Regions from separate parts of the Homo sapiens genome. Here region 2 is linked to region 1. Evidence: fine-mapped QTL for protein levels in blood plasma. A gene starts in region 1. The other region holds a variant in brackets. All regions are shown on one strand. Distances are between the middles of the regions. Region 1 holds the start of KLB (klotho beta). Region 2 overlaps KLB (klotho beta).

Evidence for each region. PIP is the posterior inclusion probability: the model's chance that the variant is causal. The UK Biobank Pharma Proteomics Project read protein levels with antibody pairs (Olink). The fine-mapping took linkage between variants from a reference panel, not from the people measured, so its PIPs are less certain.
Region 2: its variant is fine-mapped to the plasma level of the KLB protein (UK Biobank, PIP 0.99).

What each region holds. Positions count from the first base shown.
Region 1 is chr4:39,402,914-39,411,251 of GRCh38, forward strand. KLB (klotho beta) reads left to right here and starts at 4,017. Exons shown (of 5, transcript NM_175737.4): 1 at 4,017-4,861. The coding sequence starts at 4,037.
Region 2 is chr4:39,424,767-39,433,104 of GRCh38, forward strand. All of the region lies in intron 1 of KLB (klotho beta), which reads left to right. Among named protein-coding and RNA genes, the nearest start is that of MIR5591, 17 kb to the left of the region's middle. The variant C/T (reference allele first, on the strand shown) is at 3,488.

The DNA of each region.
Region 1 (8,338 bases):
ACATTTTTGAATTAAATATATTTGTGAGGATCTAAGATATTGCATTTAAAATTTTATTTTCATAAATAGTAATGTACCAACTCCATTCATTCAATAGATAATTATTAATCATTTACTCTGATAAGCAATTATAAACATTTAGATAGGAGATATTCTTACAGTGTGGTGGAGGAGACAAACAACTCCAGGATTATGTGATAAATGCAGTGATAGAGGTATACATAGTCTACTATAGCTACTTTTTTTTTCTTAGTAGAGATGAATTCTCACTATGTTGCCCAGGCTAGTCTTGAACACCTGAACTCAAGCGATCCTCCTGCCTCAGCCTCCCAAAGTGCAGGGATTACAGGTGTGGGCCCTCATGCCCAGCCTACTATAGATACTCTCATTCATTCAGTAAATACTTTAGTGACTGCTATATGTCAAGTACCATGCTGGGCCACAGACAATCAACAGGGAACCAATCATGGTCCCTGTTTTGGTTTTTAAAAAAGAGAGAGAGAGAGAGAAACAGAGAGAGAGAGAGAAAACTTACACTCAAACAGAGGATACAGATACATTTATTGTGTGGTTAGCTGATTTATTGTGTGTCATAATAGAGAAAACATGGGCTGCCATGGGAAAACAGAAGATCCATCTAAATCCAATCAGGCTAGGGAGTCATAGGGAGTCAGAAAGGCCTTACTAATGCAGGAACAGAAGACCAAATACCGCAGGTTCTCACTTATAAGTGGGAGCTAAATGATGAGAACACCTGGACACATAGAGGGAAATAACACACTGGGGCCTATCAGAGGGTGGAGGGTCGGAAGAAGGAGAGGATCAGGAAAAAAAAACTAATGAGTACTAGGCTTAATACCTGCCTGCTGAAATAATCCATACAGCAAACACCCATAACACAAGTTTACGTATGTAACAAACTTGCACGTGTCCCTGAACTTAAAAGTTAAAAAAAAAAAAAAAAAAAAAAAGACGGCCGGGCGCTGTGGCTCACGCCTGTAATCCCAGCACTTTGGGAGGCCGAGACGGTCGGATCACGAGGTTAGGAGATCGAGACCATCCTGGCTAACACGGTGAAACCCCGTCTCTACTAAAAATACAAAAAACTAGCCAGGCGTGGTGGCGGGCGCCGGTAGTCCCAGCTACTCAGGAGGCTGAGGCAGGAGAATGGAGTGAACCTGGGAGGCGGAGCTTGCAGTGAGCCGAGATCCCGCCACTGCACTCCAGCCTGGCAGACAGAGTGAGACTCCGTCTCAAAAAAAAAAAAAAAAAAAGATAGACATGAGCTAGATGAAGGGAGAAACATACTCTGTGCAGAGAGCACACATACCAAGGTACAGGGCTACAAGTTAGCAGGCTGTGTACCCCTTAGTCAACTGAGAGAAGTGAAGCTAAAAATGTGGGCAGGAGCCAGAACAAATTGTCTTTTATGCTAAATCCTGGCATCATGTCCTGAATAATCTTTCCCTTTCACACAAAAATAATATTAGCACATAACTTACTATGTGTCAGTCTCTGTTCCAAGTGCCTTACATGTACTGGCTCATTCGTTTCTATATTCCAGAGAAAACCATTTGGTTCAGTGTATTAACTCGTTTAATTCTCACAATAATCCATGAAGTGCATATTATTATTATGCCTTTTCTTAAAGAGGAAACTGAGGGCAAGTTACACAGCTATATTTAAACTCAGGCAGTCTGCCTCTAGAGGCTCAATCTCTCTTTTTTTTTTTTTTTTTTTTTTTTTTTTTTTTTTTTTTTTAGACAGAGTTTTGCTCTTGTTGCCTAGGCTGGAGTGCAATGGCGCGATCTCGGCTCACTGCAACCTCCACCTCCCGGGATCAGGCAATTCTTCTGCCTCAGCCTCCCGAGTAACTGGGATTACAGGCATGTGCCACCATGCCCAGCTAATTTTGTATTTTTAGTAGAGATGGGGTTTCACCATGTTGGTCAGGCTGGTCTCGAACTCCTGATCTCAGGTGATCCAGCCGCCTCGGACTCCCAAAGTGCTGGGATTACAGGTGCGAACCACTGTGCCGGGCCTCAATCATCTTTTTTTAGAGGTGAGGATAGTCTCACTATATTGCCCAGGCTGGTCTCAAAACTCCTGGCCTCAAGCAGTCCTCCCCACTTAGCCTCCTAAGTAGCTGGGATTATAGGTGTGAGCCACCTCATCTGGCACAGAGACCAAACTATTAACCACTCTGCTTCTCATTCATATGTGATACTTCAAATATTTAAAACATTTATTTATTTATTTATTTATTATTTTTTGAGACAGAGTCTCATTCTGTCACCCAGGCTGGAGTGCAGTGGTGCAATCATGGCTCACTACAGTCTTGACCTCTTGGGCTCAAAGCAATCCTCCCACCTTGGCCTTCTAAAGTGCTGGGACTACAGGCATGCACAACCACACCCGGTTAGTTTTTAATTTTTTTTGTAGAGATGGGGCCTTATTATGTTCCCCAGGCTGTAAAACATTAAATTTTTTACAGGTTATTTGGAGGCTATCGATTTGGTACAATATTTCTTTCTGTATGTGCATGTATTTCTTTCTGTATGTTTATCTTTATTCCAGAATCATGCTGAAGGTAGTCTATGCCTTTGCTATTTTCTTTTTCAGGTTTTTCTTTCCTTTTTAAAAATAAATATTGCCTATTCTTCAAGGGAACTTTCATAATAATTTTCTCTTTTTTTTTTTTTTTTTATTTTGAGACCGAGTCTTGCTCTGTTGCCCAGGCTGGAGTGCGGTGGTGCGATCTCAGCTCACTACAACCTCCACGTCCCAGGTTCAAGAGATTCTCCTGCCTCAGCCTCCCAGGTAGCTGGGATTACAGGTGCCCACCACCGTGCCCAGCTAATTGTATTTTTAATAGAGACGGGGTTTCAACATGTTGGCTAGGCTGGTCTCAAACTCCTGACCCCAAGTGATCTGCCTGCCTTGGCCTCCCAAAGTGGTGGGATTATAGCCATGAATCACTGTGCCTGGCCTTTCGTAATAATTTTCTTGAACTAAAATTTGGGATTAGGCCAGGCATGGTGGCTCACACCTATAATCCCAAGCACTTTAGGAGGCCGAGGCAGAAGGGCTGTTTGAGCCCAGGAGTTCAGGACCAGCCTGGGGGACATAGCTAGACCCCACCTCTACCAAAAAATCAAAAATCAGCTGGGCATGGTGGCATGTGCCTGTTGTCCCAGCTACTTGGAGGCTGAGGAGGGAGGATTGCTTAAGCCTGGGAAGTTGAGGCTGCGGTGAGCTGTGATGACACCACTGCACTCCAGCCTAGGCTACAAAGCAAGACTCTTATTAAAAATTAATTAATTAATTAAAAAATTAGAGATTAGAGAATTTTAGTTAAGTTAAATAAATAAAATAAAAAATAAAATTAGAGATTAGAGGATTTTAGTTAAGTTAAATGTATTAAATTGAAAAGTATTTCATTTTTCCATCCACAAAGTGCTATATTTTCTCATTCAAGTCTTCTCTCAAATCTACCAATACATTTTTGCAATTTTCCTAAAATAGGTAACATTTATTAAGATTGTTCTTAGATGCGTTATAATTTTGTGGAGAAGTGTAATTTCTTATTGTGTTTTCTAATTCTTTACTATTGGTATGTAGGAATGCTATATACTTGTATATGTTATTTTTCTTGATATATGAGATTATAAAATTACCACACAAAAACTCTAAAAATAGAAAAGCTATATACCTTATTCAATAATGTTCAAAACATTCAGAAAAGATTTGGGTCAATATGAAAGGCTACACGGAAAATAATGTGATTTTAATCCAGTGTTTACATATGTGTTAGTTACACATTCAAACTCTTGTCACCGATGCATTTTCATCTAATTTTTTCCATAATGAGAGAGAAGGAGACGCGTTGGTGACTGCAATAGGGCCACCTCCCTCAAATTACGTTGCTCTCTATGACCCATCCTCAGTCTCCCAGTTCAAGCTAATCATTGACAGAGCTTTACAATCACAAGCTTTTACTGAAGCTTTGATAAGACAGTCCAGCAGTTGGTGGCAAATGAAGCCAGGCTGTGCGGCAGGATCTCCAGGGAATGAATGGATTTTCTTCAGCACTGATGAAATAACCACACGCTATAGGAATACAATGTCCAACGGGGGATTGCAAAGATCTGTCATCCTGTCAGCACTTATTCTGCTACGAGCTGTTACTGGATTCTCTGGAGATGGAAGAGCTATATGGTCTAAAAATCCTAATTTTACTCCGGTAAATGAAAGTCAGCTGTTTCTCTATGACACTTTCCCTAAAAACTTTTTCTGGGGTATTGGGACTGGAGCATTGCAAGTGGAAGGGAGTTGGAAGAAGGATGGAAAAGGACCTTCTATATGGGATCATTTCATCCACACACACCTTAAAAATGTCAGCAGCACGAATGGTTCCAGTGACAGTTATATTTTTCTGGAAAAAGACTTATCAGCCCTGGATTTTATAGGAGTTTCTTTTTATCAATTTTCAATTTCCTGGCCAAGGCTTTTCCCCGATGGAATAGTAACAGTTGCCAACGCAAAAGGTCTGCAGTACTACAGTACTCTTCTGGACGCTCTAGTGCTTAGAAACATTGAACCTATAGTTACTTTATACCACTGGGATTTGCCTTTGGCACTACAAGAAAAATATGGGGGGTGGAAAAATGATACCATAATAGATATCTTCAATGACTATGCCACATACTGTTTCCAGATGTTTGGGGACCGTGTCAAATATTGGATTACAATTCACAACCCATATCTAGTGGCTTGGCATGGGTATGGGACAGGTATGCATGCCCCTGGAGAGAAGGGAAATTTAGCAGCTGTCTACACTGTGGGACACAACTTGATCAAGGTACTGTACAGCTAGCTTCTTCTTATAGCTTCAGAAAACACTAAGAATTTAAGAATTTACCTTCTGCCTCAGTAATTCTCTTCACTGAAATCAAGGCAACTGATTTTAAGCTAATTCAAAAGATCTATCCTCAAATTTTGCATTTAAGTTAGTGTATGTTTTATTTATCTAAGGTATTTTTAATGTATTAATCCAATTAGTTTTTTCAAAAGTTGCACTTTGAGGCTATTTTTAAATCTACCATTATACACTACAGTGTGAATATATGAGCTTACTTTCATTCTGTGGGAAAACAGTGCTTCATAAATTTAATTGTTGGAACCCTTTTCTGACAACATGCAATCATTTCAGAATTATCTTAAGGCACAACCATTTCAAATATGTATTTGTTGTTAAGTATAGCTAACTTAGCTAATAAGTAAATAAAGTAAGTAAATAAGTAAGCCAAATAAATGTTAGCTAACTCATGCATATTAAATACAGAAATTTAAATATACTTCACTTTTGATTTTATTTGTGTTACATAGCAAAAAAGAGAAGATTAATTGTTATGGGAGCTAAACACATTTCTTCCCATAAGAACTGGGAAGAATGTGCTCTACTAAAGCAATTTTCAAGCAATATATTTCAAAAGCTAGAGATAATGTTGAGAAATGTTAAAATTAGTAAAACAATAGTGAAAATACAAGCAAAATAATAGGTAATAATTACTGAGTACTTATTATGTACCACAGACTACATTAAGTATTTTACATGCATCGTTACAGTTGATCCTCTTAACAGCCTTTTGAACTAGTTTTATTATTCTTCCCATTTAAAAGATGAGGAAACTGAAGCTTAATGAGATTAAATAATTTTCCCAAGGTTAAGGAGTAAAATACAGCTGTTGTGGACATGGATTTTTTAAATGACAACATAATTAACACTAACTGTCTTCATTAAGAATGCTTTGAAAAGAAGACTCAGGAATTTGCAAGAGATTTAGCCTCACATTGAGGCTAATATCTAGAATCGAATTTAACTTTTTGAGTCAAATAGTTTACTTAGGAAAAATAAATTATTCTGCACACCTGTTACATTTTAAAAATGAAAAAACTTTATCAATATAATTTTATAATGTGCTACAAAAAGTAATTTAATTATTAATAATCAAAAGCTAAATATACAGAAGTAGAAAAAAAATACAGCAACATAAAATAATTCCATGTCTAAATTTGTACATACAAAAATATCTGCTATCACTTCTTTTCTTTTTGAACTTTTCTGGATTATTACACATGTGCATTGTACTATGGTTTCAGATACATCTGCCCTTGAGGTAAACAGATTGCATTATGATTTCAAGGTCATTTGCATATCTTTGACTAGAGTTGTATATAGAACATATTAATGTGTGGGTATACTGTGATTTGACAAAATAAGACCTTAAAGGGTAGAAATTGTATAGGTATTTAACAGTTATCAAGATTATGCATACAAAAGTTAGAAAAATATTCCTCTCATTTAGTCCTTTTAATTTTCTTTTTTTTTTTTTTTGAGACAAAGTCTCACTCTGTCACCCAGGCTGGAGTGCAATGGCGCAGTCTTGGCTCACTGCAATCTCCACCTCCCAGGTTCAAGCAATTCTCCTGCCTCAGCCTCTTGAGTAACTGGTACTACAGGCACATGCCACCAGCCCAGTTAATTTTTGTGTTTTTAGTAGAGAGGGGTTTCACTATGTTGGCCAGGCTGGTCTCCAACTCCTGACCTCATGATCCACCTGCCTCAGCCTCCCAAAGTGCTGGGATTACAGGTGTGAGCCACTGCGCTCAGCCAGTCCTTTTAATTTTTAAAACAATTCATGCTCATGTACATTTAAAAATATCAGATTGGGCCGGGCACAGTGCCTCATGCCTGTAATCCCAGCACTTTGGGAGGCCAAGGCAGGTGGATCACAAGATCAGGAGTTTGAGACCAGCCTCGCCAACATAGTGAAACCCTCTCTACTGAAAACACAAAAATTAACTGGGCGTCGTGGCACGTGCCTATAGTCCCAGTTACTCGGGAGGCTGAGGCAGGAGAATCCCTTGAACCCGGGAGGCAGAGGTTACAGTGAGCCGAGATCACGCCACTGCACTCCAGCCTGGGCGAGAGTGAAACTCTGTCTCAAAAAAATAATAAATAAAAAATAAAAATATCACATTGTACCAAAGGATCTAAAGTGAAAAAGTTAAATCCCTCTCCCTCTCTTCACCTGACAATCCCAGGCCAAGGACGCTACTGTTAATAGTTTCTTATACATTCTTTTTAAAGTTTTCTATGCAAATACATGCATGAATATGTTTATTTAACCTTTGTATAAAGAAAAATATTCTAAATTGTTGAAAAGTCATTACCTGGAAAAATGTCAACAATTAGAGTTTTCATGAAAATGTATTTTAAGGATTAAAGCCTTAAAATTGGCTGATAAGAATAAACAGGCAAAAAGCTTTAACAGATATTGCTTCCAAACATAGTTGATAAAATGACATATTTTCAGATGTTTTCATTTTCCTCTAATTTGAGATATTCTCTGCCTTTAACACAAAATTAGCACTTTATGATCGTGAGATAAATTTTATTATTTTAAATGGAGGGATATGTTTTTCAACTATTGTGTTTTCCAAATAATGTTTGTATTGCCTTAAAAGTTCTAAATCACTAGACTAAATAAATGGTGTGAGGGGTCCTTGAAATCAGTCAGAAAGTGAAATACACTGCATGACCCAGTGACGTATAGCACTAAAGAAATCTTGCAATGATTTGGTAGCCTGAGGTGAACTTGTTTTTCCCACTTGTCCCCTCGCTGTCTTGACTTTCACGTAGAAAACATTAATTTGATATTTTACGTTGCAATGAAGTATTTCTTCCTTCTCCTGCCCCCTTGTGACCCAGAAGAAGCATTCTTTAGGAATAGTTTTTAGACCGAAAACATTTATTGAGCTACACAAGCCTAATATAAAACTGAATTCTGGGGGGGTATGGACCCCTTCATTCCCCACTTCTCAGATAGAGAAAAGGTTTCATAGTGGCTATTGGGGTCCTTTTCGTTCCAGAATGATCTGGAAAACTCCATCTCGGTTTGAAATGTTCCCATTTGGAGGAAACCTGAATGGTCCAGAGGGTCCCAAGGCTGACTTGCAATTTAGATTCCACTTTATTGCAGATGTAGGGAGTACCTTAATGCGGGTCTAAGACTCAGGTAAAAATTTTCCATAATCACACCTACTAATGGATGAACCAACTCTAAGTTTTTGTTTTTGTTTTGTTTTGTTTTGAGACGGAGTTTTCGTTCTTGTTGCCCAGCCTGGAGTGCAGTGGCACAATCTTGGCTCACTGCAACCTCCGCCTCCCGGGTTCAAGCGGGAGCCTCAGCCTCCCGAGTCGCTGGGATTACAGGCAAGTGCCACCACGCCTGGGTAATTTTTTGTACTTTTAGTAGAGACGGGGTTTCTCCAT
Region 2 (8,338 bases), 22 kb after region 1:
TACAGGCATGTGCCACCACGCCTGGCTAATTTTTGTATTTTTAATAGAGATGGGGTTTCACCATGTTGGCCAGGCTGTTCTCGAATTCCTGACCTCAAGTGATCCACCCGCCTCGGCCTCCCAAAGTGCTGGGATTACAGGTGAGAGCTACTGTGCCAGGCCTCCATGGTGGTTTATATGTTGACTATCTGTATTCCCAAATCCTGAGGAAAGGCTTCAAGTCACCAACCCAGACCATTTTAGCTTCAGTTATACCATGAGATATAGTCCTTTTGCATGAAAAAATTACTATCAGGATCACTAACAAAAAGCCTTAAATATCATTACACCCTCTACAAAGATGGCATGCAAATGCTCTCCTCCGGCAAAGAGAACTTCACTAAAGCACTAATTTACTAATGCTGATTTCTTCCAATTTCTAATAGAGGGAAACTAGATGCTTCATTTAATCAAATTATGAACTTTATTCTAGACTTTTTTCCTTTTGTGTTGCCAGGTATAGATTCTGGCTCAGCCACTAGTCTAATTTAGTAATATTATCATTGAAATCAGAATTCTTTAACAGGACATTTGTTTTAAAGGAACAAATATGCTAGAGTTTAGTTTTTACATTCCTTCAGGAAAATTCTGAGACAATACAAACTGAGAATAATCAATAATTTGTTAGAATAATTTTTTTTTAAGACAAGGCCTTGCTCTGTCACCCGGGCTGGAGTGCAGTGGTGTGAACACAGCTCAAACACAGCTCACTACAGCCTTGACCTGCTGGACTCAAGTGATCCTCCCACCTCAGCCTCTTGAGTAGCTGGGACTACAGGCACATGCCACCATGCCCAGCTAATTTTTGTATTTTTTGTAGAGATAGAGTTTTGCCATGTTGCCCAGGCTGGTCTTAAAACTCCTGGGCTCAAGCAATCCATCCTCCTTGGCCTCCCAAAGTGCCAGGATTATAGGCATGAGCCACCACATCTGGCCAGAAAATTTGAAAATATAATGATTGAAAAAGAATAGGGAGAAATTCATTAAAATGTAATACTGAGTTATTTCAACTATAGAAAACATGAATTTGGGCCAGGCGCAGTGGCTCATGCCTGTAATGTCAGCACTTTGGGAGGCTGAGGCGGGCGGATTACTTGAGGTCAGGAGCTTGAGACCAGCCTGGCCAACATGGTGAAACCCCGTCTCTACTAAAAACACAAAAACTAGGCCGGGCGCTTGGCTCACACCTGTAATCCCAGCACTTTGGGAGGCCGAGGCGGGCGGATCACTATGTCAGGAGATTGAGACCATCCTGGCTAACATGGTGAAACACCATCTCTAATAAAAATACAGAAAATCAGCCAGGCGTGGTGTCGGGCACCTGTAGTCCCAGCTACTCAGGAGGCTGAGGCAGGAGAATGGCGTGAACCTGGGAGGTGGATGTTGCAGTGAGCCGAGATTGTGACACTGGTCTCCAGCCTAGGCGACAGAGCGAGACTCCATCTCAAAAAAAAAAAAAATTAGCCAGGTGTGGTGGTGCATGCTTATAGTCCCAGCTACTCAGGAGGCTGAGGCAGAAGAATGGCTTGAACCAGGGAGAAGAAGGTTGCAATGAACTGAGATCGCGCCACTACACTCCAGCTGGGTGACAGAGCAAGACTCCTATCTAAAAAAAAAAAAAAAAAAAAAAAAAGGGCCATGAAATTTGGACCATTAAAAATAGGATGGTGAATATTTTCTTTATGAAAGGCTGTAACTTTTGTTAATATTTAAATTCTTTCCTAAGAAAAGCAAAGGTAAAATAATGATTGCAAAAGAGTTTCAAGATTGCCAAAAACTTTTTAAAAAAATAGTCACATAATATAATTAAAGAAATAATTGTCACATAATTTTATAATTTTTTAGCAATGAACAGTAAAGGTCACATACCTTAAGCATCCAATAATTTTTTTTTTTTTAAGAGACGGGGTCTTGCTCTGTTGCCTGGGCTGGAGTGCAGTGGCATGATCATAGCTCATTGCAGCCTTGACCTCCTGTGCTCAAGCAATCCTTCCATCTAATCCTCCTGAGTAGCTGGGACTACAGGCATGCCACCATGCCTGGCTCATTTTCTTAATTTTTAGTAGAGAAAGAGAGTCTCACTATATTGCCCAGTCTGGTCTTGAACTCCTGGCCTCAAGTGATCCTCCCACCTCAGCCTCCCAAAGTGCTGAGAGTACAGATGTGAGCCACAGCATCCAATAAATATTTGTAGACTGCAGCATGGATGAATGAATGAATGTTAAACAATCTGGAAGAGCAGCATTTGGTAATTAACATAAAAGTTGATAGTAGGCTGGCACAGAGACAGAGACTTAGGCTGGCGGATTGCTTGAGGCCAGGAGTTCGATACCAGCCTGAGCAACATAGTGAGAGGTTGTCTTTACAAAACAAACAAATTAAAAAATCAGCTTGAGGCCGGACGCGGTGGTTCATGCCTGTAATCCCAGCACTTTGGGAGGCCAAGGCAGGCAGATTGCTTGAGGTCAGGAGTTCAAGACCAGCCTGGCCAACAGGGTGAAACCCTGTCTCTACTAAAAATACAAAAATTAGCTGGGCGTGGTGGCAGGTACCTGTAGTCCCAGCTACTCAGGAGGCTGAGGCAGAAGAATCACTTTAACCCAGGAGGCAGAGGCTGCAGTGAGCCAAGACCGAGCCACTGCACTCCAGCCTGGGTGACAGAGGGAGACTCTGTCTCAAAAAAAAAAAAAAAAAAATCAACTTGATACCAAAATAGAGAAGGGCTAAGCAGATGAAAAGATGAATCAAATTGAAATTAATCCCAAAAGGACAACGAGTAAAACTCAGGAAGCTGCAAACAATAAATGAGGGCAAACATGTTCAGCCACGAGCCTTGGCAAGTAAAGGCTTGGGAGCTATTTGCAGAACACTCTTCACGTCCACACAGTCTCCATTACGATTTTCTAGACCAAGTTAAATTATTTTCAGCTTGCTCTTTCAAAGTACTTCAAATTTACGTTTGTGTCATTTTCACAGGGTCTTCACAGATATTATTGCCTCATTTGACGTTCACGAAAATTCTCTAGGGTGTTTATTTTTAGCTCAGTAGAATGAAGGGAAAAACAGGTCTTTGACAGTGAAATGATCTGTCCAAGATCGTAAAGCTGATGAGTCAGCAGAGCTAATACAAGAGCCCAGGTCTCCTGCTTTCAAGACCAATGTTATTTCCCGTATAGTACCAGGTAGATGAGTAGCACCTTTATATCATTCTCAAATGCCATTTATCCCCTAATAGAGCTGTCAATGTTTTATATCCCATGGTCACAGAACACTCACACCAGTGGACAAAATGTATGGAAAGCGATTTGGGAATATTTAAAACAATTTTAGAAATAGGTAGTCCAGGCCGGGTGGCTCACGCCTGTAACCCCAGCATTTTGAGAGGCCAAGGCAGGCGGATCACCTGAGGTCAGGAGTTCAAGACCAGCTTGGCCAACATGGTGAAACC[C/T]CGTCTCTACTAAAAATACAAAAAATTAGCTGGGTGTGGTGATGGGTGCCTGTAATCCCAGTTACTCAGGAGGCTGAGGCAGAAGAATCGCTTCAACCCAGGAGGTGGAGGTTGCAGTGAGCTGAGATCACACCATTGCACTCCAGCCTAGGCAACAAGAGTGAAACTACGTCTCAAAAAAAAAAAAAAGAATGAAAGAAAAGAAATAGGTAGTCCATTCCTGGCATTAATGAAAGGCAATGATTCAAATAAATTAAAGGTTATATGCCCAAAGTTAGCTATTGAAACATTTATGACAGGAAAAGAGAAAGAACAAAAGAACGAAGAAAAATAAATTTTTATCAAAAGACAGAGATAGCTAAGTAAATCATTATTATACTAAGATATTCTGAAAACCAAAAACAGCGTGGAAGATGTTTAAAGTGATTTTATTTCTTAAATTTTTATTTATTTATTAGTTTAATTATTTCAAGATGGAGTTTTGCTCTTGTTGCCCAGGCTGAAGCGCAGTGGCGTGATCTCGGCTCACTGCAACCTCTGCCTCCCAGGGTTCAAGCCATTCTCCTGCCTCAGCCTCCCGAGTAGCTGGGACTACAGGTGCCCGCCACCATGACCGGCTAATTTTTGTATTTTTAGTAGAGACAGGGTCCCACCATGTTGGCCAGGCTGGTCTCAAACTCCTGATCTCAGGTGATCCCACCCACCTCCACCTCCCAAAGTGCTGGGATTACAGGCATGAGCCATGGCACCCGGTCTTAAAGTGATTTTAGCTGGGAAATATGTTTGGAAAGCCTGGGTGGGAACACAGAAATATAAACCTATTTTGTTATGCTTGTGGAGTTTTTAAATAAACTTTCTTTAACCATTGTTATTTAATAGTCTATTAAATAGCTTAAACAACAGACACTTTTATAGTACACATGAACATATTTCAGCCAAAATGTGACCAAACTCATGCACAGATTTGGAAATGGAACTTTTGACAAATGACTGAGGGTTCCTTGAATACACTGGTGTGATGTGTTTGGCTTGCTCATCTGTCTTCAACCCATCTTTCCAACAGTGTCCTGTCATGTCTTCCTCTGGCTCCTAATCCCTTCTTCATCTATTTCTAAAGTTGTGCCTACTATCTTATTTGTTTCCTATCATCCACAGAATTTATCTGAGTCTGGACTTCCAGGGGCATCAAAAAATGCTGCCACATTAAACTGGAGGAGAGAACAGAATGAGATATTAGGTCCTGGTTGTCTCTCAATGACATTAGGGCCTGATAGCTGGCTCCAAAAGAAAAAGAAGCTGACTTTCCCTTTAAGCTACTGAATCTAAAGAACAAAGGTTGAAGCTCCCTTAAATCAATCATTACAGAGGTAGATGGCTTTGTACAAATTAGAGGGTGACCTTGGAAAAGTGTAGAATGGCTGTTGTGCAAGGTTGCAGGGCCCAGGTTGCACTCCCCTACTAACCTCATTTTAATTTTCCCAACAGATCTCCTTTATGAGTGCCCAACCAAAGAACACACATAGATGGATATGGCAAACTCACGATCTTGGAGCAAAATTTTTTACCTTGTTACTTGGCAAATAGGATCAAGTTATAACCAAAAGTACTGCACAGAGGACCTCCCCCACATTCTCTACATGAGAATGAAGAGGCTGTCTTCAGCCCAGAGCAAAGATAACCCTAGATACCTTGATAGCCTAGGCAAATAGCAGCAAAGGTGAAAGAGACACTGTGGAACGTGAAGGTCACCTTGACAACACATCCATATGTATATCCAGAAAACCTGCATGGAAAGCTACTGCAAAGATATGTCTTCTGAGCTCTACTGTTTCTCATTCAAAGGCTGATGTAACCAAGATTTTTATCACGACTTAGGTCATCTTTCATATAATCACTGAAATTTAGTGTCTGCAAAAGCAAGACATTAAATTTGCAAAGCAACAAGTTTAAGGCTCACAATCCAGGCTACACGGGCTCAGTGCTTTCCAGTTTGCATAGAGAGGTGCACAATAGGCCTGAAGGGAGGTGCTGATCACTGGGTCTTCCATGAATGATAGCTCTAAGGCTACCAAGGGATTAAGTGACTGGTTAGAAAAAAACAAAGAATTCCCTCCTTTGAATCCTAGTAATTTATGACTGCTTTTGTTTCTAATTAGAAAAAAAAAAAAGCGGTTCTCAAGAATTTCTGTCGTGATTCTAGCCCCAGAAAAACCCGGAAAGAATAGCTGAAACCATTTAAGGTAGTGTCTGTCCCAGGCCCCTCTGATTCTTCCAGAAGTTGCAATCTCAGGTTGGAGACAAGGAAAGAGGCTACATTCTGAATACTTCTCTGAGAGGAAATTTTTTTTTTTTTTTTTTTTTTTTTGAGACAGAGTCTTGCTCTGTCACCCAGGCTGGAGTACAGCGACTCAATCTAGGCTCGCTGCAACCTCCGCCTCCTGGGTTCAAGTGATTCTCCTGGCTCAGGCTCCTGAGTAGCTGGGACTACAGGCGCATGCCACCAAGTCCAGCTAATTTTTATATTTTTTTTTAGTAGAGAAGAGGTTTCACCATGTTGGCCAAGCTGGTCTCAAATCAAACTCCTGACCTCAAGTGATCTGCCCACCTCAGCCTCCCAAAGAGCTGAGATTACAGGCATGAGCCACTGCTCCCGGTTGGAAAGTTTTTTTTTTTTTTCCCCTGAGTCAGGGTGTCACTCTGTCCCCCAGGCTGGAGTGCAGAGGTGCCATCTCAGCTCACTGCAACCTCCGCCTCCCTGGCTCAAATGATCTTCCAACCTCAGCTTCCTGAGTAGCTGGGACTACAGGCACGTATCACCATGCCTGGCTAATTTTTGTATTTTTTTTTTTTTTTTTTTGTAGATACGGGGTTTCGTCATGTTGACCAGGCTGATCTCGAATTCCTGAGCTCAAGCAATCTTCCCACCTTGGCCTCCCAAAGTGTTGGGATTACAGATGTGAGCCACCCACCCAACCACCAACCAAGAGGAAAGCATTCCTTTTTTTTTGAAACGGAGTTTCACTCTTGTTGCCTAGGCTGGAGTGCAATGTCACGATCTCAGCTCACTGCATCACTGCAACCTCCGCCTCCTGGGTTCAAGCGATTCTCCTGCCTCGGCCTTCCGAGTAGCTGGGATTATAGGCATGCGCCACCACGACCGGCTAATTTTGTATTTTTAGTAGAGATGGGGTTTCTCCATGTTGATCAGGCTGGTCTGGAACTCCCGACCTCAGGTGATCCGCCCGCCTCGGCCTCCCAAAGTGCTGGGATTACAGGCATGAGCCACCATGCCCGGCCCGAGGAAAGCATTCTTAAGGATCCTTGGGAATACCTGGGTGCTAAATGGTACCAGAATCTTCCAATGAAAATTGAGTAAGGACAAGTGGACAGAGGTATACCTCAAGGAATTTATTTCTCCAGAAAATCTTCCAGGAATTTATTTAAATTGTTTTTTCTTGCATAAAGCAGGATGGCACGTTTCAGAATCCTCACCCCTTACCTCAATGCCTACTTTCCCCATCTAACAGGGTTTATGGAATATTTTCAGGGTCCACAGGATCGATCTGGTTTGAATCCATTGTTCATATCTGCTTGTCTTTGACCTACGTAAAAGGCAGTTTCAGATAGTTTATTCTGATATAAAATATCTCCAGTGAGCAAAAGAAAAGCTAAGGAACAAAACTGAAAGCAGGCTCTGTGTGCTAAAGATAATGAGTCTGTGCATTTGTTTTAGAAACACACAAATAGTGGGGGCCGGGTGCAGTGGCTCACGCCTGTAATCCCAGCACTTTGGGAGGCCGAGGTGTGTGGATCACCTGAGGTCAGGAGTTCGAGACCAGCCTGGCCAACATGGTGGAGCCCCACCTCTACTAAAAATACAAAAATTAACTGGGCATGGTGGTGCTCACCTGTAGTCTCAACTACTAGGGAGGCTGAGGTGGGACGATCACTTGAACCTGAGAGGTGGAGGTTGAGTGAGCTGAGATGGCACCACTGCATTCCAGCCTGGGTGACAGAGCAAGACTCTGTCTCAAAGAAAAAAAAAACAACTCAAATAATGGAGAAAATGAGAGACCAGGGAAGAGATGTCAAGAAACAAGCAAGTCAAATGCTGAGGGGAAGAGAGTGGTTCTGACACAGATGAAGGACAATTCCACAGCTAACTGGGACACAGAAGTGGCCTTGGCATTTAAGTGGCATGGAGTCCTTAATGTTTGCTCCTTCAGCTGTGGCTGTGACTGTTAACTCAGCCATGGCTTCTGGCTTTTAATTTTTTTTTAATTTAATGCCATATTTTATGCCATTTTATGTTTCTCTTTCACATGCTGCATCCTTATTTTCCTGATAAGAAACTTTCTGAGGGTAAGTTCCTGTGCCATCTATCTCAGTCTCTCAGCCCAGGGCAAGCCAGGCATGGAAGTAAGTGCTCAGGAAGTATCTATCATATTAAATGGACCAGAAACCCATCACGAGGCTGTGTTGTAAGAGAGCTCAACTGGAAATGCAAACTCCAGGAGGACCAATAATAATAACATCCACCTTTTGGCAGTACCTCCTACGTGCTCTATTCTGTGCTACATATTTCATGCATATATTAGCTCTAAACCAGACAACAACCTTATAGGGGATTTTTTTTTTTTTTGAGACAGAGTTTTGTTCTTGTCACCCAGGCTGGAGTGCGGTGGCACCATCTCTGCTCACTGCAACCTCTGCCTTCCCGGGTTCAAGCGATTATCCTGCCTCAGCCTCCCAAGTAGCTGGGATTACAGGTGCCTGCCACCATGCCCAACTAAGTTTTGTATTTTTAGTAGAGACGGTGTTTCACCACGTTGGCCAGGCCGGTCTCAAACT